Linked DNA regions of Homo sapiens: all the other regions are linked to region 2. The links come from fine-mapping of genetic effects on plasma protein levels. Region 2 holds a variant in brackets. A gene starts in each other region. All regions are shown on their reverse strands. Region 1 holds the start of GGH (gamma-glutamyl hydrolase). Region 2 has its middle 4.2 kb from the start of LILRB5. Region 3 holds the start of GALNT7 (polypeptide N-acetylgalactosaminyltransferase 7).

What was found. PIP is the chance, under the fine-mapping model, that this variant and not a neighbour inherited with it causes the effect. Protein levels are from antibody-based Olink assays in UK Biobank. Linkage for the fine-mapping came from a reference panel and not from the study's own genotypes, which makes the PIPs less certain.
Region 1: it holds the start of GGH, and the variant in region 2 is fine-mapped to the plasma level of the GGH protein (UK Biobank, PIP above 0.99).
Region 3: GALNT7 starts here. The variant in region 2 is fine-mapped to the plasma level of the GALNT7 protein (UK Biobank, PIP above 0.99).

Annotation. Positions count from the first base shown.
Region 1 is chr8:63,035,364-63,043,551 of GRCh38, reverse strand. GGH (gamma-glutamyl hydrolase) reads left to right here and starts at 4,746. Exons shown (of 9, transcript NM_003878.3): 1 at 4,746-4,892; 2 at 7,782-7,896. The coding sequence starts at 4,784. RefSeq lists a silencer at 4,353-4,712.
Region 2 is chr19:54,257,379-54,265,566 of GRCh38, reverse strand. It overlaps the pseudogene RNU6-1307P. Among named protein-coding and RNA genes, the nearest start is that of LILRB5, 4.2 kb to the right of the region's middle. The variant T/C (reference allele first, on the strand shown) is at 5,446.
Region 3 is chr4:173,161,318-173,169,499 of GRCh38, reverse strand. It overlaps GALNT7 (polypeptide N-acetylgalactosaminyltransferase 7), which reads right to left and starts at 689. Exons shown (of 12, transcript NM_017423.3): 1 at 539-689. The coding sequence starts at 664. GALNT7-DT (GALNT7 divergent transcript) reads left to right here. Exons shown (of 7, transcript NR_134242.1): 1 at 1-636; 2 at 1,387-1,538; 3 at 2,710-2,855; 4 at 3,201-3,376; 5 at 4,368-4,522; 6 at 5,147-5,207. RefSeq lists silencers at 1-540, 771-890, 961-1,010 and enhancers at 1,321-1,420, 3,499-3,578.

The sequences.
Region 1 (8,188 bases), not on the chromosome of region 2:
ACAAAATAGATTTAAGTTAAATACTATAAAAAGAGAAAAAGAAGGCTATTATATAATAACAAAGAAGTTAAATCACCACAAAGACATAACTATTGTAAATATACACCCACCTAAAATCAGAGCACCTAAATACATAAAGCAATTACTAAATGATCTAAAGGAAAAAATATAATTTAATAATATTACAGTAGGGCTCTCCATATTCCATTTTCAGTAATGGACAGATCATCTAGAGAGAAAATCCATAAAGAAACTATGGACTTGCATTACACTTTAGAGTAAATAGACCAAACAGAAATATACAGAACACTGTATCCAATAGCAACAAAATACACATCCTTCTTAAGTGCACATAGAACATTCTCCAGGATAGCCCATATGTTAATGCACAAAACAAATCTTAACAAATTTAAGAGAATTGAAATCATATCAAGTATCTTTTGAGATCACAATGGAATGAAACCAGAAATCAGTAACAGGAGATATCTTGGAAAATACACAAATGTGTGGAAATGAAACAACATGCTCCTAAACAACCAATAGGTTAAAGAAGAAAGCAAATAGAAAATAAAAAATTACCATGAGACAAAAGAAAATGGTAAGACAATGTATCAAAACTTATGGGAGACAGCAAAAGCAATCCTAAGAGGGAAATTCATAGCAATGAACACCTATATAAAAAAAGAAAGGTTACAAATAATCTAACATTACCACTCAAGAAACTAGAAAAATAAGTATAAACTAAGCCCAATGATAGCAGAAGAGGGGAAATAACAAAAATCAGCACAGAAATAAATGAAATAGAGACTAGAAAAACAATAGAAAATATCAACAAAACTAAGTTGGTTTTTTGAAAAGATAAAGTTGACAAACCCATAGCTAGACTAACTAGGAAAACAAGAGCCTACTCAAACAAGATTAGAAAAGAAAGAGGAGACATTACAATATACATTGCCTATATCTACTATAATAGACATATATACACACACAAATCAATATGTGATATACCACATTAATCAAGGATAAAAATCATATAATGATTTCAATACATGCAGAAAAAACATTTGAAAAATCCCAACATCCTTTTATAATAAAACTCTTAACAAGGCCAGGCGCGGTGGCTCACACCTGTAGTCCCAGCACTTTGGGAGGCCAAGACGGGCAGATGGCGAGGTCAGGAGATTGAGACCATCCTGGCTAACACAGTGAAACCCTGTCTACTAAAAATACAAAAAAATTAGCCTGGTGTAGTGGTGGGCGCCTGTAGTCCCAGCTACTCTGGAGGCTGAGGCAGGAGAATGGCGTGAACCTGGGAGGTGGAGCTTGCAGTAAGCTGAGATCACGCCACTGCACTCCAGCCTGGGAAACTGAGCAAGACTCCATCTCAAAAAAAAAAAAACAAAAACAACAACAAAAAAAACTCTTAACAAATTGGGTATAGGTATAGAGGGAATGTACCTCAACACAATAAAGGCTACATATGACAAACCCTTAGCTAATATCATTCTCAACAGTAAAACACTGAAAGCTTTTCCTCTAAGATCAGTGACAAGACAAGTATGCCTACTCTCACCACTTCTTTTCAATATAGTACCGTAAGTCCCAGCTAAAGCAATTAGGCAAGAGGAAAAATTTGAAGCCTAATAGGAAATGAAGAAGTGAAAATATCCCTATTTTCTATGACATGATCTTATATATGAATCCACCAAAAAACTATTAGAACTGATAAATTAACAGTAAAGTTACAGAATACAAAATCAACATATAAAAGTCAGCAGCATTTTTATATAGTAATAACAAATTAAAATGAAATTAACAAGACCATCCCCTTTAAAATAGTAACAAAAAATTAAATACTTAGGTGTAAATTTAATGAGCAGGTAAAAGGCCTGTACACTGAAAACTATAAAACACATAAAAATACAAGTAAATAAGAAAATACAAGCAAATGGAAAGATATCTCATGTTCATGGATTGGAAGAATTAAAATTGGGAACATGTCTATATGACTGACCTACGGCAATATACAGATTCATTGTAATCTCTACAAAATTCCAGTGTCACTTTTTTCACATAAATGTAAAAAAATCCTTAAATTTGTATGAAACCACAAAAGACCCCACATACCTAAAACAATCTTGAGAAAAAAAATCAAAGTTGAAGCCATCATACTCTGATTTCAAGACATATTATAATTATAGTAATTTAATCAAACTAGCATGGTACTGGCATAAAATTACGGGCATTGACCAATGCACTAGGATAGAAGGCCCAAAAATAAACCAATACATATACTGTCAATTGATTTTTGACAAAGGTGCCAAGAACACACAATGGGGAAAGGGCATCTTCTTCAATAAACAGTGTTGGAAAATCTGGAAATTAGACCCTTATCTCTCACCATGAACAAAAATCAACTAAAGTGAATTAAGCAGTTAAATATGAGACCTGAAACTGTAAAATTACTAGAAGAAAACACATGGGAAAAACTTTATGACATTGGTCATTTACATTTAATATTTTACTATTACAAAAAGATGCTCCAAAGAGCATACTTACACATATTTTTTTTGTTCACATGAGCACGCATTAATCTAGGTACACACTTATATCCAGAATGTACTGGGTTACAGAACATTTAGATCTTCACCTTTACCAGATATTGCTTAATTTTTCTCAAAAATAGTTATAATAATTACAATTCCACAAGAAATGCAGAGAACTGTCATTTTACTACATCCTTGACTTATTATCAAAGGCTTACATTTTTGTCAATTTACAGAAACCTGCTTCCAAAGATGGAGGAAGCTGGGAGACCAAAGAGGCTGACCAATCGAATTTCTCAGAAAGAAATACTTAGTAGAGACAAACAGAAGCGACCCCTGCACTTGCCCTCCAGAAAGTATGCTTTATTTAGCAAGCCTCTAGGGTAAAGACAAGTGCAACTAGTTAGCTCTTAGACTATTGTGATCACTGGGGACGTTAGATAAGCATCTTTATGAGGGGTTATATATGTTATGAGCATTGTTTAAAGACCTTTGCTGCAGAACACCTCGGTATGCTGTGGGTCAAACATCAGTCCCCAGGATAGTTTTGCTTCAAGATGGTGTCACTCTTGCCAGGAAACAGGCTGTTTTTCTACACAGTCTAATGGATGTGACATATTATCTTGCATTTTTCTGATGACTACAGAAAGTTTGGTTTGCTTTTCACATTCTTTTTCCATTTTTCTATTGTGTCATTTTTCTTATTATTTCTTCGCATATTTTAGAAATACTTTATATTTTATAACTATATTTTCCAAGTTTGTGCTTTAACTTTAATTTTCTTATATAGTCAATTTTTAATTAACATTTTTATTTTTAATGTTTTATGAAACTCTTCCAACAGCCTAAGTTAGGAAGATATATTTATATATTTTCTTATCAAAGTATAATATTTTGCTTTCGTATTTACATATGCACTTCACCTCGAGTTTATTTTTGTGTGTAACGCCGGGTAAAAAATTTTTCCTATGTGGATAGTCAATTATTCTGGCACCACAAGTTCATATTTACAAGGCTACTTGTCTATTTAATCATGCTCAAAACCAGCTCGGCCCTTTCATGTCTTTCATCACATCCTTTGTTGCTTACCTCTCACCACACCCTTCTACAGAAGCGTTATTTTCTTGTTAAACCAGACTATTCACTGCATTTACTCTTCTTGCAACATGCTAAAATTGTTCCTGTTGTCTCTACGAGTCACGCTTTCTGCCTTTTTTCCTTACTGAATTTAAACCTCTTGTGAAAAAGACTGTCCAATTTACGTTTTCACCCTTAATACTGAGCATTGATGTAGCAGGTTTTCAAATATTCTTGTTTTATGCTGAATTTCAGTTGGCCCTTATAGATGGAAACTTTCACTGAGTACAAGCTATATATCCATGTATTTAGGAACAATCAACAGTTTTAACGAATAGGAACCAGTCATCTTTTCTGCCCCGGTGGATAGGCTTAGTGGTGGTCGGTGGATGGCGCTGACCGCGGTTGATCAGAGGAAGCTGACGCCGTTTGCAGGCGTGGCCTGGGCGTGCCCGCTTCAAAGTAGACGCCCGGAGTTGGCCCAGTTCTGACCCTAGTGATGCGCCTGTGCGTGTGTTCCTATCGCCGTCCCGTCTTCACTTCCTACAGATGCCGCGACCCCCCAAATAGCAAGTGTGGACATTCACATTCAGGGGCACAGGCTGTCCGTACAGCGAACGTTGTCACCATTCCCGGAGATAGGGCCCCGACCTTCAAGGGGGCGGTGCGGTTGGCGCGCAGTTCTCAGGCGCCTTCTAGAATCCCCTGCCAGCCTCCCCGCTGCCTGGTTACCAAACTCGGCCGGGGACACCCAACCTCCCCTCTCGAGGACCTGGGTTGGCCAGCCCAGCTTTGTACGGGTGACTGAAGTCCACATCGACGTAACAGTTGAAAGGGAAGGACGCGGAGACCACCCGGTACCCGCCCCAGGCGTTTCCAGAGTCTCCGCTTAGGCGGCCCGTGGGGGTCGGGGTCGCGGTCGCGGTCGCGGACCGGGGACAGAGCAATGGGGCGGGCGCGCAGCGCCGGCTGCACTCCCAGAGCCTCCCACCGCCGCCCCACGGCCGCCTAGCGCGCGCCGGGACTGCATTTCCCATAGGCCCACGCTGCGGAGCACCGCCCACCCGAGTCTCACGCGAGTGCGCTGCCGCGAGGTGTCCCTGCCGCAGCCCCCGCCCGCCCGCAGAGCTTTTGAAAGGCGGCGGGAGGCGGCGAGCGCCATGGCCAGTCCGGGCTGCCTGCTGTGCGTGCTGGGCCTGCTACTCTGCGGGGCGGCGAGCCTCGAGCTGTCTAGACCCCACGGCGACACCGCCAAGAAGCCCATCATCGGTAAGGAGGCTGTGCGGGGCCGCAGCAGACGGGGAGGAGCTGGGTGTTGGCGCTGGGCGCCTCCCGCCGCCGCGCTCCAGCTGGCGCGTCCCGCCGGGAAAAACCCCCAGATGTGCTTCGCTTTTGGTGCAAGGAGGAACCCGGGCTGGGCACCATTTAGGTCGTACTGAAATGTACCTGGTTGAGGTACCTCGTTCATTCCTTTAGACTCATATGACTCTTAAAGGTGGGAGGGAGGAGGGTGCACCATGAAGAATCCTGCGGATTTTCTTTTTTTGTACACAGCTAGGAATTTCTACTAAAATAAAACATTTCCTTTTCGCACATAGTTGGGAAGTTTTACTCATTTACATCTACAAATTCTGTACATGCATTGCATTCATCAAAATGTATTGATGGCGTATTTAAAATACCAGTGCATTGTAATAGAAAATCAAGAAATTAAGGTATAACTTGGATTTTGTCATGTTCAGTAGCAGAGGACAACAGTGGCTGATATCCTAATGTGAGTTCTATTTGGTGTTAAAATGCAGCCCACAATTTTTCGTTTCCAACATATTTGTGTTTTAAAGAGGTAGTAAAATCAGTCTGTGTTACCAAAACACACATTTGAGACAGGCCCAAGGAAAGCTACCTAGGAGAAATCATCCTGGGGTTAAAATTTGCCCAAAGAAATTTGTGTGTGGACATTAAGATTAGTTTTATTTTGGCTGTAGGATTATGCCTTTCATACTATTTTTTTCTATGAATATTATCACTGTATTCTGTAACTAAACAGAAAGTAGATGAATGTTTTTTCATATAGGTAGTGCCCAGTTTTCAAATGGGTTGCTTACTAATATTTGGAACTTATTTCATAGCTGTTTAACATGGTGATTTGATTCTCCACGAATTAACTCAAGCTGTAATTAATGTAACAGGTTGCATATTGTGTGTCCAGAGAAGAGAAAAAAAAGCAGAGGGGATTCTTCCCCTTTCCTAGAATCAGGGGTAGCCCTGCGTCAAATATTTAAAAAAGGGACTTTGCTTTTGGTCACTGAGATCAGCACAACATCGTTAACTGAGTACCGACTATGTACACAATCTTGCTCTGGGAAGTGCAAAGGATTGAAAGATGACAAGCCACAAAAGTTGTGAGATGGCCTTAAATTATTGGTGGAATTTTGGTCATATTTTGAGGGACAGGGAGAACAGCTTGAGCTCTTTTCCCAGGGATGGGAAAAGTGAATATGCGTGGGCCCAGGGGAAGGGGAGATGTTGGTGGAACTCACTCTGATGTACTTCTCTTTCTGGTACCCTTGTGCTCCCATGATGCCCCATGTCTCCTTTGTGGTACCTCACCCCATGTACCCTGTACCACTCCATTTCCTATGACACTCCTAGTTCTTCGTTCCCTAGCCAAACTTTGTTATTCCTTAGTGAAGATGATCTTACCTACCAGTAAGGAGAAAAAGTTTTACTGAACAAATTTTGGCGTTTGACATGTTAATCTGAATACCTGATGAATGCCAATTGTAAGAAGCTGGGAATACAAAAGTGAGTAATACAGACAACAGCTCTTCCTATCAGGTGGCCTACAGAGACACTGAAAGTGTTCCAAATGCTGAAGTGCTGAATAGGAGTAGGCACAGGTACTCACCCGACAGACGTGTTTTGATGTATACTGGTTGCTATACTCTGCTGGGGCTGGGTTTCACTGGTAAAAGGAGGCCAGAGAGATGGGTGGGGCAGAGCATACGGGTCTTACAGAGTTTATTAAAGTTTAGGGACCCACTGAGGTAGTTAAACAAAGTGGTGACACCTGCTTGCTGATCTATCGCTACCTGATGTCCTTTCCTATTGCTTTCTGCTTTCACTCACCTGGCTCTAATAATATGGATTCCTTGCAACGTGACAGGCACAAATCTGACTCCTGGCCTTTGCACTTGCTATTCCTTTGTCCTGGATTGCTCTTTTCCCAGATATATGAATGTGGTTTACTCTGTCACCTCTCTGAAGTCCTGGCTCAAATGTCATGTTTTACCTTCTCAGGGAGGACTTGCCTGGCCACCGTGTTGAAGAGACTGTCCTTTCCTACATAGATGGGCTCTCCTTCCCCACCGTCTTTCTCTCCTTAGTGCTTACGACCAGCCATCACTCTATATATTATGCCTTTTTGTCTTGTTTATTGTTTGTCCTCTTTCCCCTCCCTGCTACACCCTCGAATTAATGCACACAGGGCAGGGGCTTTTGTTTGGTTCACTCATAGTCATGTGTCCCCAGCAGCTAGTTTGTTGCCTGGCATGAGGTATGATTCAACAGTATATATTGAATGACTGTAGGAATAGGAATGGTGATATGATCCGATTTGCTTCTACATGGGGAGCTGCTTGGAGCTTGGGGGGGTTTCTTAAGAAAAGATATAACAAGACCTTCTAAGAGTCTATTATGATAGTGTGGTGGGGAGAGGGTAGATATTGATAGCTTGGGCTAAGGTAATGTTGGAGAGGTGTGGATGGAAGATGTTTTCACTCCTTTGCTTCGTTGTCAGGGAATCAGTGTGTCTGTGAGTATGTGTGGGAAAGGAGTGACAGCCTTGTAAATTTAAGGATCTATATTCTTTAGATGGATTCTAGGTCTACAGTTGTGTGAAGGCTGCAAGTGCTATTGTAAGCCTTCTTTGGGGGCTTATTTGGCCTCCCTAATGAGGTGAGAGATAGATCTACTTGAAAGTAAGATCAGCCTCCCCTGCTGCTTTCCCATAGGCTATGGGTGGACTTGGAGGAGAGACTTCCTATTTAATTCTGTGGATTGAAATAATAAAATATGATATTTTTGCTGTGATATATTTCAGTTTCTGAGCAAGAAGAAAAGGAATTTGCTTGAAACTAAACTTTTTTTTGTTATTAGGAATATTAATGCAAAAATGCCGTAATAAAGTCATGAAAAACTATGGAAGATACTATATTGCTGCGTCCTATGTAAAGTACTTGGAGTCTGCAGGTGCGAGAGTTGTACCAGTAAGGTATGATTCAGTGTTTTTTTTTTTTTTTTACTCTGTATAAAAAATTGCTGCGTACGGGTGCGGTGCCTCATGCCTGTAATTCTAGCACTTTGGGAGGCCAAGGCGGGTGGACTACTGAGGTCAGGAGTTCGAGACCAGCCAGGCCAACCTGGTGAAGCCCTGTCTCTACTAAAAATACAAAAATTAGCTGGGTGCAGTAGTGCACTCCTGTAATCCCAGCTACTGGGGAGGCTGAGGCAGGAGAATCGCTTGAACCAGGGAGGTGGAGGTTGCAGTGAGTTGAGATCGCACC
Region 2 (8,188 bases):
AAATAAAAAATAATAAAAAATAAATAAAACAATAAATCATGGTATGTCTTTTGACAGGTAGAATGCATGGGCTTGGGAGTAAAGTGAGAGTTTAATGAACAGCATCTATCACTAACTTTACAGATGACACACTTGGGAGATGTGCACATCCTGTGACTGCACTTTTAGGTGACCCTGGGTTAGAAGATCTGCCTGGTAAGAAACCACTACCAGGGAACAACACAAAAATTACTCTGTACCTAAAATGATGATGTAGCTGGTTTTCCTTGGGTTTCCTCATTACAGTACATCAGCAGGTAAGGAGAAAGATATCATACTGGCCTGGGTAATTTTCTTTAACGATGAGGAGGAGGATTTGGTGAAGAGAGGGTGGTTGGGCAGCTTAGATAATTCACTGTGGCAGTGATGAATTCTCCATAGCTGGAGGTAACCATGACTGGGGTTGGGGTTTGCACTGTGTCTCCAAAAAGGTATGTTGACATCCTAACCTCCCGTAGCTGTGAATATGAACTTATTTGGAAATAGGATCTTTGCAGGTATAATTAGTTAAGATGTGGTCATGCTGGCTTCGGGCAGGATCTAAATCCAATATTGCTCACATCTTTATAAGACATGAAGAAGACACACAGAGAAGAATAGGATGCCATGTGAAGATGGAGGCAGAGATTAGAATGAGAAGTCTGTAAACCAAGGAATGCCAAGAAATGCCAGCAAGGACCAAAGTCTAAGAAAAAGGCACAAAAGTGGCCGGGCGTGGTGGCTCATGCCTGTAATCCCAGCACTTTGGGAGGCCGAGGCGGGCAGATCATGAGGTCAGGAGATCGAGACCATCCTGGCTAACATGGTGAAACCCCGTCTCTACTAAAAATACAAAAAAATTATCCGGGTGTGGTGGCGGGCACCTGTAGTCCCAGCTACTGGGGAGGCTGAGGCAGGAGAATGGCATGAACCCGGGAGGCGGAGCTTGCAGTGAGCCGAGATCGCGCTACTGCAGTCCAGCCTGGGAGACAGAGCGAGATTCCATCTAAAAAAAAAAAAAAGAAAGAAAGAAAGAAGGAAAAAGCACAGAAGTTTCTTCTTCAGAGCCTCTAGAAAGAAGAAATTATATGAACATTTTGATTTTTTATTTCTGGCCTGCAGAACTCTGAGAGAATAAGTTTATCTTCTTTTTATTCAATACTTTGTGATAATTTGTTATATCAGCCTCCAAGAAACTAACACAATGGGCAACTCCCACAAGAAAGCCTGAAACAGGCACAATAATCAGGTGCTCAGATGCCTCAAGGTTGAAATTTATGTTTATTTCATTGGGCCGATAGTTGAGACAAGTAGAGTTTCTCATGCGAACTCTGGCAGAAGGTAAGCAGAACCTAGAGAGGGTGATAGACAGCAAAGCTGGTAAATATAAAGGATGACCTCGGGGTCAATTACAACAGAGAACACTGTACTTCTCCCCATTCACACCCATATGCTTTGTTTGCCTCATTTGTAGATAAATGTGTCCAGTGTGTTGTTGCTTTGGCAGCACATATACCAAAATCGGAATGATACAGAGAAGATCAGCATGGCAGCTGCACAAGGATATTAACAAATTTCATGAAGCATTTTATATATATATATATTTTTTTAATGTGTCCAGCAAAGACCTGGAAGAAGTTATAGTGTGAAAAGACATGAACATGAAGTTCATGGGGCTATGAGCAGGGCAAAGTGTGGACTGCAACAGACAGGACAGACCCTGGTGATGCCCCATCGATGTTGCCTGGATCATGTCTTTTTTTTTTTTTTTTTTTTTTTTGAGACAGGCAGAGTTTTGCTCTTGTTGCCCAGGCTAGAGTCCAATTTTTGAGATGGAGTCTCACTCCGTCACCAGGCTGGAGTGCAGTGGCGCAATCTCGGCTCACTGCAACCTCCGTCTGCCGGGTTCAACTGATTCTCCTGCCTCAGCCTCCTGAGTAGCTGGGACTACAGGCGTGCACCACCACACTGGGCTAATTTTTGTATAATAGTGTGAGTTAATACTTAATAAACACTCGTATATATATATATATACACACACACATATATATATGGTGTATATACATATATATGTATGTGTATATATACACACATATATATACACACACATATATATACACACATGCATATATATACACACATATATGATTTTATATATATATATGTATACACACACACACACACCAGGCTAATTTTTGTATAATAGTGTGTTAATACTTAATAAACACCCATATAGATATGGTGTATATACATATATATGTATGGTATATATATGTAGGGTATATATATACACACATATACACACACATATATACACACAAACATATATGTACACACATATATATACACACACATATATATACACACATATATGTACACACACATATATTTTTTGATATGTGTACATATATATACACCAGATACGATTATATATATATACACACAAACATATATATACACACATATATATACACAGAAACATATATATACACACATATATACACACAAACATATATATACACACACATATATATACACACACATATATACACACACATATATACATACACATATATACATACACATATATATACACACAAACATATATACACACACATATATATACACACATATATACACACACATATATACATACACATATATATACACACATATATACATATATATTTTTTGATATGTGTATATATACACACATATATATACCCCAGATATGATTTTATATATATACACACATATATATACACACATATATATAAACAAACATATATATACACACACATATATATACACACAAACATATATACACACACATATATACACACACATATACACACACATATATATACACACAAACATATATGCACACACATATATACACACACATATACACACACATATACACACACATATATACACACACATATATACACACACATATACATATATATTTTTGACATGTGTATATATACACACATATATATACACCAGATACGATTTTACACACACACACACACACATATATACGCCATTAGTTGTGTCCCTCTAGAGAACCCTAATACACAGCGTGTCACACTAGCGCAGGCACAGGCCATCACTCTTGTGAACACCCAAGGCACCGTTTCCACTTCAGCTCGGTCCCTGAGGGTCAGGATGCATCTGCCACTGGGAAAGGTGGATCGAGTGGCTCTAGGCAGCTTGGCACGACAGGGTAGTGTAGAGCAACAGCTCAGCCTGGGGATGGCAGGCCACCAGGCAAGGCTGGCTCAGCAGTGACAATCCCTCAGCAGTGAAAGGATGCTGCGGCTACGTGTCCCCCAGAGATCCAGAAGTAGATCCCATTCCACAATGGCATAGTGCCAGAGCCGTGATGGCCGTGGACAGTGGGGCACAGTGTCAGTCTTTTCTCCTGGGTGAGTGCAGCTGTGTGGAATCTGGGTAGCTCCGTCAGCTGTGCTTAGTGTCTGTGAAAGGGAATCTCCAATGGTGAGATCTACAGGTGTCCAAAGTGTTGATGGAAGCTGCTAGGTCTTTTTCTCAGCTTTTTCCAGCAAGGAGAAGTCCCTCTTTATTCCAAGCTGATCCTGACTGAAGGATGGGGTGATAGAGGTGCAGTGCTACTTTCATTTATTACGTGGCCATCCTGTGATTTTTAATGAAATGGCTAAAATGGCAGACATAGAATTCAGAATCTGGATGCCAAACTAAGATCACTGAGGTTCAGAAGAAAGTTGAAACCCAATCCAAGGGATATAAGGAACCCAGTAAAATGACACCAGAGGTGGAAGATGAAATAGACATTTTAAGAAAGAAAGAAACTGATTTTATAGAGCTGAAAAACTCATTACAAAAATTGCATAATATAATAAAAAGTAGTAACGGCAAAATAGACCAAGGTGAGAAGAAAATCTCAGAGCTCAAAGACTGCTTCTATGGCCAGGCGTGGTGACTCACGCCTGTAATCCCAGCACTTCGGGAAGCTGAGGCGGGCGGATCAACTGAGGTCAGGAGTTCGAGACCAACCTGACCAACATGGTGAAACCCCATCTCTACTAAAAATACAAAATTTGCCGGACGTGGTGGTGCATGCCTGTAATCCCAGTTACTAGGGAGGCTGAGGCAGGAGAATTGCTTGAACCCATGAGGTGGAGGTTGCAGTGAGTCAAGATTGTGCCATTGCACTCCAGCCTGGGCAACAAGAGCGAAACTCCATCTCAGAAAACAAAAATAAAAACAAAATTAAAAAAGACTGCTTCTGTGAATCAACGCAGTCAGACAAAAATAAAAAAAATAGAATTTAAAAGAATGAACAAAACCTCTGAGAATTATGGGATTATGGAAAGAGACAAAACCTATGACCCATTGGCATCCCTGAGTAAGAAAGGAAGCAAGCAACTTGAGAAACATATTTGAGAATATTATCAATAAAAATTTCCCCAACCGCACTAGAGAGCCAACATTCACATTTAGGAAACTCAGAACACCCCAGTGAGATACTATACAACAAAACCATCCACAAACAACATACTCATCAACTTCTCCAAGATCAACGTGAAAGAAAATTATTCATGGCAGCTAGAGAGAATAGGCCAGTCATCCAAAAGACGTACCTCATCAGGCTAACAGTGAACCTTTCAGCATAACCCTAAAAGTCAGAAGATATTAAAGATATTAGGGTATATTTTCAGCATTCTTTTTTTTTTTTTTTTGAGACAGAGTCTCGCTCTGTCACCCAGGCTGGAGTCACCCAAGCAGCGACTGTGTGCTTGGGGAAGGGAGAAGGCAGGACTGAACTCAATGCTGCCCTGTCACACTGGAAAGCCACACTGGGCTGATTGCAACTGATGCCCGTTCATGGAGAAAGCATTTGATGAGCTCTACCCAAAGGGGAACTGCCCAGAAAATCAGTTGGAACTTGAGATTCAGCAAGTCCCACCTGAGACCTCAGGCTAAAGTGCTCTGGGTTTGTTTTTTTGTTTTGTTTTGGTTTTAGATGGAGTCTCGCTCTGTCATCCCAGGCTGGAGTGCAGTGGTGCAATCTCGGCTCACTGCAACCCCTGCCTCCCAGATTCAAGCGATTCTACTGCCTCAGCCTCCCAAGTAGCTGGGACTACAGGCACGTGCCACCATGCCCAGTTAATTTTTGTATTTTTAGTAGAGATGGGATTTGGCCATATTGGCCAGGCTGGTCTCAAACTCCTGACCTCATGATCTGCCCGCCTCAGCCTCCCAAAGTGCTGAGATTACAGGTGTGAGTGACTGCGCCTGGTCTGGGGTCTTAAACAAGCTTGAAAGAGTCTAGGCCACAAGTACTGTGATTCCTGGGAAAATCCTAGTGCTGTGCTGAGTTTGGAGCCAGTGAATTTAGAGAAATCAGCAAACGTAGCTAAGGGTGTACTTGTTTCATCC[T/C]TCCCACTACCCAAGGCAGCACAACTTGTAGCAACAAAAGTGATTCCTTCCTTCTGATTGAAGAGAGGAGAGGGAAGAATAAAGAGGACTTTGTCTTTTATCTTGGATACCCACTCAGCCACAGTAAGATAGGGCAACAGGCAGAGTCCTGAGGTCCCCATCCCAGATGCTAGCTCCTGGACAACATTTTTCCACATACCCTAGGCCAGAAGGGAAATTGCTGCCTTGTGGGGAAGGATTTAGTCCTGGCAGAATTCATCACTTGCTAACTGAAGAGCTCTCAGGCCCTGAATAACCAGCAGCAATATACAGGTACTATGTCGTGGGCCTTAGGTGAGACTCTGAGACTTGCTGGCTTCAAGTGAGACTCAGCACCTTCCCAGCCATGTTGACTGTGGGGTGAGAAAAGTGGAAGAAAAAGTAAAAGGGACTTTGTATTGCACCTTAGGTACCAGCTCAACAACAGGGGATAGAGTGCCAAGTAGGCTCTCAGGTCCTCAATTCAAGGACTTTGCTCTTAGAGATCATTTCTGGACCTGCCCTGGGCCTGGGCAGAGCCCAGTGTCATGACGGATGAATAGCAGGCCAGGAAGCCTTCACCACAAGCTGACTGAAGATCCCTTAGGGCTTAAGAGAACACTGGCAGTTCTCCCTGTAAGCCTGTTGTGGCAGTGGTCATGGCATGAGGCTCCTTTGCCTTAAGAAAGGGGAGGGATGAGTAGGAAGGACAGTATCTTGTGGCTTGAGTGCCAGGTCAGCTGCAGTGCAATAGAACGCCGGGTGGACTTCAAGGATTTTATTTATTTATTTATTTATTATTATTATTATTATTATTTTGAGATGGAGTTTCACTCTTGTCACCCAGGCTGGAGTGCAATGGCTTGATCTCGTCTCACCACAACCTCCGCCTCCCGGGTTCAAGCAATTCTCCTGCCTCAGCCTCCTAAGTAGCTGGGATTACAGGCATGCACCACCACGCCCAGCTAATTTTTTTGTATTTTTAGTAGAAACGGGGTTTCTCCATGTTGGTCAGGCTGGTCTCAAACTCCCGACCTCAGGTGATCCGCCCGCCTCAGCCTCCCAAAGTGCTGGGATTACAGGCGTGAGGCACCACGCACGGCGGCGGAATCTGTTAAACACAAAAACGGGAGAGGTGGCCCCATGCTGATCATGGACTTCAGTCAGTGGGCAGAGATATCCCAGCTCCTGTCCACAAGCACGAGCAAGGGTGAACCACAGCTTTTCTTTTCCTTTTTTTTTTTTCTTTTTTTGAGACGGAGTCTCACTCTGTCCCCCAGGCTAGAGTGCAGTGGCGCGATCTCAGCTCACTGCAAGCTCTGCCTCCCAGGTTCACACCATTTTCCTGCCTCAGCCTCCCAAGTAGCCGGGACTACAGGCGCCCGCCACCACGCCCGCTTAATTTTTTCTATTTTTTTTTTTTTAAGTAGAGACGGGTTTTCACCGTGTTAGCCAGGATGGTCTCGATCTCCTGACCTCGTGATCTGCCCATCTCAGCCTCCCAAAGTGCTGGGATTATAGGCGTGAGCCACCGCGCCGGGCCGGGCCACAGCTTTTCATCTTCATCTGGAGCCCCTACCCCCTCCCTTTCCATGAGGACCTGGGGTTCCTCTTCTGTCCCACACAGAAGTGGAAATTTCCTCCCTAATGACCCTGGGACAGTCTTAGACACAAGCAGGCTGTCAGCTTTCAAGTTTGTTCTTTGATGTGCAACCTTCTCAAATTAAAGAACTTTTCATTTCTTTTTCTGCACAAAACTTTCATAATCTACATATTTCGGATGTATAATCTACATATTTCAGATGTGTGTATGTGTGTGTGTGTGTATATATATATATATATATATATATATATATGTATGTTTTGAGACAGGGTCGTGCTCTCTCACCCAGGCTGGAGTGCAGTGCTATGATCATACCTCACTACAGCCTGGACCACCCAGGCTCAAGCAATCTTCCCACCTCAGTGTCCCAAATAGTTGGGACTGCAGTCGTGCACAAACATACCTGATTATTTCTTCTTTGTTATATGCAGAGACGGGGTCTCACTATGTTCCCCAAGCTGGTCTTGAACTTCTGAGCTCAAGGGATCCTCCATCCTCAGCCTCCCTAGGTGCTCAGATTACAGGGGTGGGCCACCGTGCCGGGAACTTCAAACATAAGGAGCATTTCTTGGTATTTGGAGCAGATGTGGGCTCTTGAGTTGGGGCATCAATCATCCTCCTCTACTACGGAGCTCAATGCCAGGATCCTCTCACACCCCAACCACTCCTGTCTTAATCTGGTCTGGAAATTCACCATGGCCAAGCCCCCTCCCATGTCCCAGGCACCACTGAGCCCCACATCCACTCTGAGAAGCTGAGGTCATGACCACAAGTTCCAAAAGAGAAAGGCTCAAGCAAGCCACTTTGCTGTCCAAGGTCACATAATCGGTGGAATTAGGAAGAAAATTCAGCTCCCCACTCCACCCCATGAATCAGATGACAAACCTGAGTAATTGTTCTGAAAACCTTGAACATGGTTGGAGGCACAGAGGGACGGCCAAGGACAAAGGGGCACTGAGGAGGCAGGAACGACTTAGAGGTTCATTCCCAGCGGAGGGGTTTTGTTGCTCTGCCCTAGCCCTTGGTGAGCTGAGTATAGGTCAGGCCGACAGCGGCTAGGGCTCAGGGAGACCCCATTTCTGTCTGAAATGTCTGCAGAGAGCCTGGAGCTCACCCCAGCCC
Region 3 (8,182 bases), not on the chromosome of region 2:
GCTGCGAACACCCCCAGACGGGCGGCTGCGGGAGGGGAGGCTGGACCAAGGGGCCTGGTCCACCGGACCAGCGGTGGCGGCATCGGCATCTCGCCTCCTTCAGGCCTGCACGCGCCACAGGCCGCAGCCTGGACCAACCCCGCGTCCCCGGGCCGTGAGCGCTGCGGTCCCGGCCCCCCAGAGCGGGACGCCGGGCGGCCGCAGCCCCCCGGACCCGGCTCTCCGCCCGCTCCGCCCGCAGTCCCGGCGCGGAGAGCGGCCGCCCGAGCCGCTGCCGCGGCAGCGCGGGTGTCGGCGACGGAGCCCGGGGCGGGGAAGAGCGGAGGAAGGGGCGGCGAGGGGGCGGGCCGGCGGCGGCCAGGGAGGTCGGAGTGCGCGGGGCTCGGCACCCCCTCGGCCCGCGCTGCGCCAGCACCACCTGCGGAGCTGCGGTGCCCACGCCGTGCCGCGACCCCGCCGCCCCTGCTCCCTCCACACGCGGGCAAACAAAACAAGTTGCCGGTCGCTGCCGCCGGAGGGGGCCGGGCGGGTCACTCACCCTCATCCTGCTCAGCGGGCTTGGGTCGTCCGGCCGCGGGGTCAGGGAAGACCAGAGGACCACTAGCCCCAGGAAGCTTCCCACCACCAGCAAACTGCGTAAGATGAACCCAATCTTCAGCCTCATCTTCCTCCGGCGGCGAGAGACTCACAGCCCGGCGCAGCCGCCGCCACCGCTCTCCCCTCCCTCCTTCCCCCTCCTCCGGCTCTCCTCCCCCTCTTTCCCCCACCCCTACCGCTACGGCTGCCGCCCTCTCCGCTGCCTGCCCTTTCCAGCTCCAGATCCGGAACTCCCCTCGGCTACACCTTTCCCCGGGCTCTTCCCTCCGCTCCTCCCCGTGGCCCCCTCCCCTCTGGCGGCCACCGCAGAGCTCCGACTGACCCGTGTGCCTCGCTCTGCCAGGCTGCCTTCCTCTCTACCTGCCCCCTTCCAGATCCGCAGTCCCCTGCTCTCCACGCGAGCCCCCTTCACAGTCCCTGCTACCTTGTAACTAACTTGCACTTTTCCCGAGTCCGGTTCTTAGCCTTTGCCCTGCAGCTCAGCTCCTTAAAGCTTTCAGATCCCCAAACTTTTATTGTAATTATGGACAATAACTCCGTCCTTAACGCCTGTGCCCTCCGGGATCCCGTGGCCCGCCGCCCCCTCCGTTGGACCTGGAGTCGCTCTCGTCTGCACCTCTCCCTTAGACCCACTTCCCTGAGCCCCTTGTCGAGAGGCTTTCAGGAAGCCAACCAGGAAGTGGGACTACCGCTGCTGCTGCAGCAGCTCCACGTGGCTGATTTATAGCTGAAGGGTTTTTTTTTTTCCTTCTTATTGATTGTTCTTGCTTTTTCACACGGCTCCTTAAGGTGGTGAATTTGTAACCGAAAGGCCCAGGTGAGATGTGCAAATATCACTGGATTGGAGGAGCTCACTTGGAAAGCCAGTATTCCTCCTGAGCTAATGAAAAGAAAGGCTGTCGTCTTATGCCAAAAGCAATACCAACCTTGTTCACGGGCTGGTAAGTTTCAAATCCAAGGACCACGGATTTCAACTCCACCCTCATTGCGTCCCTCAGATCTGATATTTGCCACTTGATTTCTGCTTTTCAAACGCCTTTTCTGCCTGTGTTACCTAAATTACACAGTAAAGGATATTGGCAAGTGTTTAGCCAAATGCCCCACCCTGAGGAAATAATTTTTCTGCCCATATCTCCCAATAAAGATGTCTATGCCTTTATAGCAGAATGTATGTAATTACATTATCAGTGTACTATATCCTAAACTGCTAATTTAAATTTAAGTCGAACAAAACGTTTTAAGATTTTATCCTAAGTTTTTTGGGGTTTTTTTTCTTTTCTTTTTTTTTTTTTTTTTTTTTTTTTTTTTTTTTTTTTTTTGAGACGGAGTCTCTCACTCTGTCACCCAGGCTGGAGTAGAGTGCAGTGGTGCGATCTTGGCTCACCTCAACCTCCACCTCTCGGGTTCAAGCAATTCTCCTGCCTCAGCCTCCCCCGTAGCTGGGACTACAAGTGCACACCGCCACGCCCAGCTAATTTTTTTTTTTTTTGTATTTTAGTAGAGACGAGGTTTCACGGTGTTGCCCAGGCTGGTCTCGAACTCCTGAGCTCAGGCAATCTGCCTCGTACTCCCAAAGTGCTAGGATTACAGCTGTGAGCCACCACACCTAGGCTATCCTAAGTTTTAAGATGGTAACAGCTGATTCTTTTTTCTCGTACTGTCTCACATCTGCAAGTTTTTTGCTTTAAAACAAAGCTCAGTTATGTAAAGTTTTACAGTGAAACAATTTCAATTATCAAGATAGATAAAGAATTATACCAAACTACCTTCATGTGCTTTTTGGCTTGGCTTACAATAGCTAGTATATCAGGGAGTTCTGTAGATGCCATAATTTCAAAATTTCCACAAAATATCTGAAGTGATATCCTCATGAACAGCATGGTTCCGGAAATGTAGAATGGATTGTAGTTAGGTGTATTATTGGTTGGCTGAAGGACTGTACATCATATTGTATAAAAGTCCACTATATAGAGTACCTGGAAGAGGGACTGTCAAGTGTTAAACACAAATCACTGCTTGACTTAGCATTTATATCAGCCCCTTAGGTTAAAACCAGTTGTTTTAAGTAGAAGATGAGAGATTTTGCCTAAGACCATTTTTTTTGTGTGACAGAGATCTAGAGTGTGTAATTCACGAAGTATGAATCTGCTGGGTAATGTGATATGAAAAGCGAATGCACCATTTCTTGGTGATGATTCAGGTCAGCGTTGGGACCCAGGAATCTCCTGTTAATCAGTACCCTGGTGATTTTGATCCAGGTAATCTGGGCACCACCTTTGGAGAAACACTGAAAGGAAGCAAGGTTGCGGGGGGTGGTTGGGAAAAGTCTTATATGGATATCTTTGGAAGACAGAAATAGGCTCATTTATGGACTCAACTTGAACTGTTCAGAAGTGAGGTGGACTCCTTTTCTTTTTTATTTATTTTTTTTTTGAGTTGAGGTCTTGCTCTGTCACCCAGGCTGGAGTGCAGTGGCACATCCATAGCTCACTGCAGCCTGGAACTCCTGGGCTCAAGTGATCTTCCCACCTCAACCTCCCGAGTAGCTAGGACCACATGTGTGAGTCATCATGCCCAGCTAATTTTTTTTTTATTTTTTGTAGAGACGGGGTCTATTATCTGGTCCTGTTGTCAAGGCTGGTCTCAAACTCCTGGCCTCCAGCGATCCTCCCTTTTTGGCCTCCCAAGATGCTGGTATTACAGGCATGAGCCACCATGGTCCACCCGGACTCCTTTTCATAGGAGACAGTTCCCTAGGCAGAGACTGGGCTTGAAACAGGTAACTTACAAGGCATCCTGTGATCATAAGAGAATAATTCCATTTGAAATCAGCAGCTGAAGTCCACCTGAATAATTAAGTCTTTCACTTGTGTTATTTTCACAGGGGAGACAGTTTTTTATTCTTAAGAAGGTAGGAAGCTTTATTTTTACTGTTATGAGCATAGCTGGGCAAGTATGCAAATGGAAAGTGATACCTATCATCAAAGTATTGAGGATGGTCCTTTGAAGGCCCTAGTATTCTGAGAACATCCTGCCACCACTACCACCCCCCAACTTTAGTTTTACACAGAGAACTTAAAATATGTGTGAAAGAGTATATAGTTATACAGTTGTATATTGATGAATAGGTATATAGTTGTAAAAGTTTATGTTTCTCTGAGTCTTAATAACTTTTAAAAGAAACTGCAAGTAAACTAACACAGGAACAGAAAACGAAATATTGCATGTTCTCACTTATAAGTGGGAGCTAAATGATGAGAACACATGGACACATAGAGGGGAACAACACACACTGGGGCCTATTGGAGGGTGGAGGGTGGGAGGAGGGAGAGGATCAGGAAAAATAACTAATGTGGGTACTAGGCTTAATACCTGGGTGATGAAATAATCTGTACAAACCCCCATAACACAAGTTTACCTATGTACCAAACCTGCACATGTACCCCTGAACTTAAAAGTTTAAAAAAAGTGCAAATATACCTTAAAACATATGCCCATTGCAGTATTTGCTGGGAGGCAGCCTTTGTAGGGTTGACAGAACTCGTTTAGAAAATGAGGAGCTACATTCAAAGCTTCAGTCAAGATAAATCACGTACCTCTCTGAACCTAGGGCTTTTATCTGCCAAATAGTGATTACAATACTCAACCTTATGATGTTCTCAAAAGGAATAATTGAGATCAAGTACATATACAAATATAAAGTACAATTAGTGTAATGGAACAAGTCTCAGGTGCGTGTGGCTATAATTCTTGTTTTATGAATGCTGCAGTTCCTCTAAAGAAGAGGGTAGAGACTAGAACTGAATGAGATGGACATAGAGATGGCCAAGAAAAGCATCGTCCTCTGCCAAGTCATGGGGTCATGTGTGGTGGATGGTGACATGGTGTCCTCAGCTCAGAGTCCAGCTGGGGGCTCAGAAGCAAGGTAACTGAAGGGAGAGAATTATTTGAGCACCTAGTGTGTGTAAGATGCTTCACATTTATTATTTCACCTAACCTCTACACAACCTGTTGTGGGTATTACTGGTCTCAAGCTGGGATTCAAAGCAGGTTTTTCCAACCTCAGAATTCTTGCCAGACTGATTAGCCTTCTGCATCTGGAACATAAATGTTTTCAGGCAGCATAATGTGCAAGAGGTCAGAGCCTAAAGCTTTGTTATTTTTTAATTTCTCCACCATGTCAACTCTGTTACAGGGAAGCCCAGCAGAGGGAATTGTATCCATTTTGGGGCTACACTACCCCAATGCTATGCTGCAGCCAAGCTGAACTTCTAAGTTTCTAAATGTAACTCACTTACCTTCAGGCCTTTGTACGGGGAGTTCTTTTTGCCTGAAATACCTTCTGACATCTTAACATTACGCTTAGATGTCAGTTACAAAAAAGCTTTTTCTAGACTCTCTCACATGTCCCACTCCACACCCCTATATCTCTTCCCACCAATGTACTAGGGTAGGTATCCTGCTAGGTACTTCCACTGCACCCTCTACTTTTCTTCCCTAATGATTACCACTATATTGTAATTGCTTAATTTCTTTTTCCTATACCCAGATAAAAATGTGTATGAAGGTGGAGCCTTGTCTATCTAGTTCGTTATTGTTATCCGTGTCTGGTATGTGGAAAGGGCTCAGTGAGTATTTCTTGATGGAATGCTGAATGAATAATGGGATTGAAAATATAAAAGGCAGACAAAACTTAGAAGAGGGGCCAGGTTTACTTCAATTGCTATTCCTCCTCACTGGGAGGTTTTTCTTCCAAGGACAAAACTTTGGAGGTTTTATTAAATTAGAAAAGTGATTATTTTACATATGGTCATCATCATCAATTGATAGGCTGTTGTTTCCCCCTTACTCAGCATCCTACTAAGGCTGCTTAGAACTAAGAAGAAAGGGTAATTTTAATTTAAGTTCATATTTTTGTATGTACGGAGATTTAAAAAAAACAGCTACATTAAAATGGGAATATGTAGCCATAGGGAATTATTTGCAAACAAATTTCAGTATTATCTATGTGTGGTTGCCAAGAACTCAGGTTAAATTAGAGTCAGTGACCTCTAAATGACTAAATATCCTATCACCTATTCTATAAGCCATTTAATCACCTCTTTTCAAAGAAGAAGAGCACAATTGGTAGTATCTTTAAAGGAAGATACATTTTATTGTTTAGAAAATAACTACTATTTAGATATCAAGGGAAGCATAGTGTAAGTTTGTTAAGAATTTATTAATTTTGTGTACTGTTCATTAGTTACCTCTTACTGCTTAACAAATGACTCCAAAGTTTAGCACTTTCAAACAACAAACATTTACTTCACACAGTTCCTGAAGTCAGGAATCTAAGAGTGGCTTAACAAGGTGGTCTGGCTCAGGGTCTCTCATGAGGTTCTTACCAAACTATCAGCTGGGACCACTATCATAACCAACTGGGCCTGGAGAATTTGCTGTCAAGTTCACCCACATGGCCAGCAGGCAGGCCTCAGTTCCTCACTGGCAGGCGGTGGGAGGCTTCAGTTCCTTGTCACCTGGGCTTCTCCACAGGGCTACTCATGACATGCCAAGCTGACTTCCCCCCTTCATGAAAGATCTGAGGGAGAGAGAGCCCAAGGCAGAATCCACAGTCTTGTATAAGAAATAATCTGTATACTGCCTTCATCTGTAAAATGAAGGTGTTGGACCAAATGATCTTTAACATTCTTTCCAATACTGAAATTCTGAGATTTTCCTATGATGCCGATGTGTGATTGAGACTAATTTGTGCTTTCATGTGGAATACTATGAGGTAAAATCCTGCCTTTGTACTTTTTTTCTGACATGGGGTACTATTTCTATCATAAGCTTGAGATGGATAATTCCTGAGTTGTGCTCATCTGGAATAAAGGACTGTTGTCAAGGGCTTCCATTTAATGAGGTTAAGGGTCTCCTACAGTGTTTGGAAAGCAAAAATATTTATGTAAAAGCCCTCAGATTTCACATCGTAGAACACTACCTCTTCATAATTTGGTACTGTTTTTGGACTCCCATAATTCAGAAGTGCTCTTCTGATCTAACCATTTATTTAAGAGGTGATTGAAACGGATTTTGTCTCTTACCACTCTTGTTTAAAACCTCTTCAACAGCTTCCCATTGCTCTTATATTTAAGCCCAAATTCCTCCATTTATTACAAAGCCTTTGTGAGCTTGCCTCTGCTTACCTCTGCAGCCCCATGGCTGGTCAGTTATCCCCTCTTTTGCAACTTAAACTATAGCCATGTTGATTTTCTCTCCATTTCTGAAATAGGCTAACTTCCCTCTCACTTCTAGACCTTGTGTGTGTTATTCTCTCGCTTAGAACACTCTGTGGTTCTTACACCAACCCCTCTCCCATGAACTCCCTGATAATCCTTCAGATTTCAATTTATACATCAGTTCTTTCAGAAACCTCTAATTGTCTTCAGTCCCCGATCCCACTGCTAGGTTAGAAGACCCTCCTTCATGCTCTCAAAGCACCCTGTAAGTTCTCCCTCAGAGCATATAGACCAAGTTTCTTTTCTTTTCTTTTCTTTTCTTTTCTTTTCTTTTTTTTTTTTAGACGTAGTCTTGCTCTGTTGCCAGGCTGGAGTGCAGTGGCCCCATCTCAGCTCACTGCAACCTCTACCTCCCGGGTTCAAGCGATTCTCCTGCCTCAGCCTCCCGAGTAGCTGGGACTATAGGCATGCGCCACCACCCATCTAATTTTTGTATTTTCAGTGGAGATGGTGTTTCACCGTGTTGGCCAGGATGGTCTCAATCTCTTGAACTCATGATCCGCCCGCCTTGGCCTCCCAAAGTGCTGGGATTACAGGCATGAGCCACCGCGCCTGGCCTAGACCAAGTTCCTTAAGGGCAAGGACCATGTTCGAATTTGGCATTGTGTCTCTAGATGTTGACCATGCTTGGCACAGAAGAGATGCTCAGTATTAAGAGACTGAACAAGTGAAAATATATTTCCTGTGTTCACTGTTAAGCGTGGGGAAAAAGGAGTTGCATAAGTAAAAATACTAATTTAAAAGCCCTCAGATTTCACAGTGTGGAACACCACCTCTTCATAATTTGGTACTGTTTTTGGACTTCTATAATTCGGTAGTCTTCTTATTTAAGAAGCATTCTTTAATAGCTCTTAAAATATGATAATATCTAAATGATTTGCAGAAGCATTTTATAGGTAGATGGTTTTGCCTTTATTTGGGTGTTGGGGAAGAAGGGTACAGTATTCTACATTTTACCTGACCAAAAAGAGTACTGTAATTCCTAGATAATAAACTGATAGCTATTTGAAACTGCCTGTTGGCTCACTGAAGGGAAAATGCATTGCCCACAACCTCATATCTTTCATGTGGGAACCCAGTACCTATAAGACAAACTGGCCTCTCTCTGTTACTATTGATAATCTCTTAGAGCATAACTTCTAAATAATGGGTGGAATGGAAAGGAACTCTGTCAGTGAAAGGGCTAGAGAACCTGCCCTGCTATATGCAGATTAAGAGATTTGGCTAGACTCAAATTTCTAATTTCCTTTAAAATGCTCAAATTTCTTAAAACTAGGGTATGAAATGCACTGAAGAAAGACTCA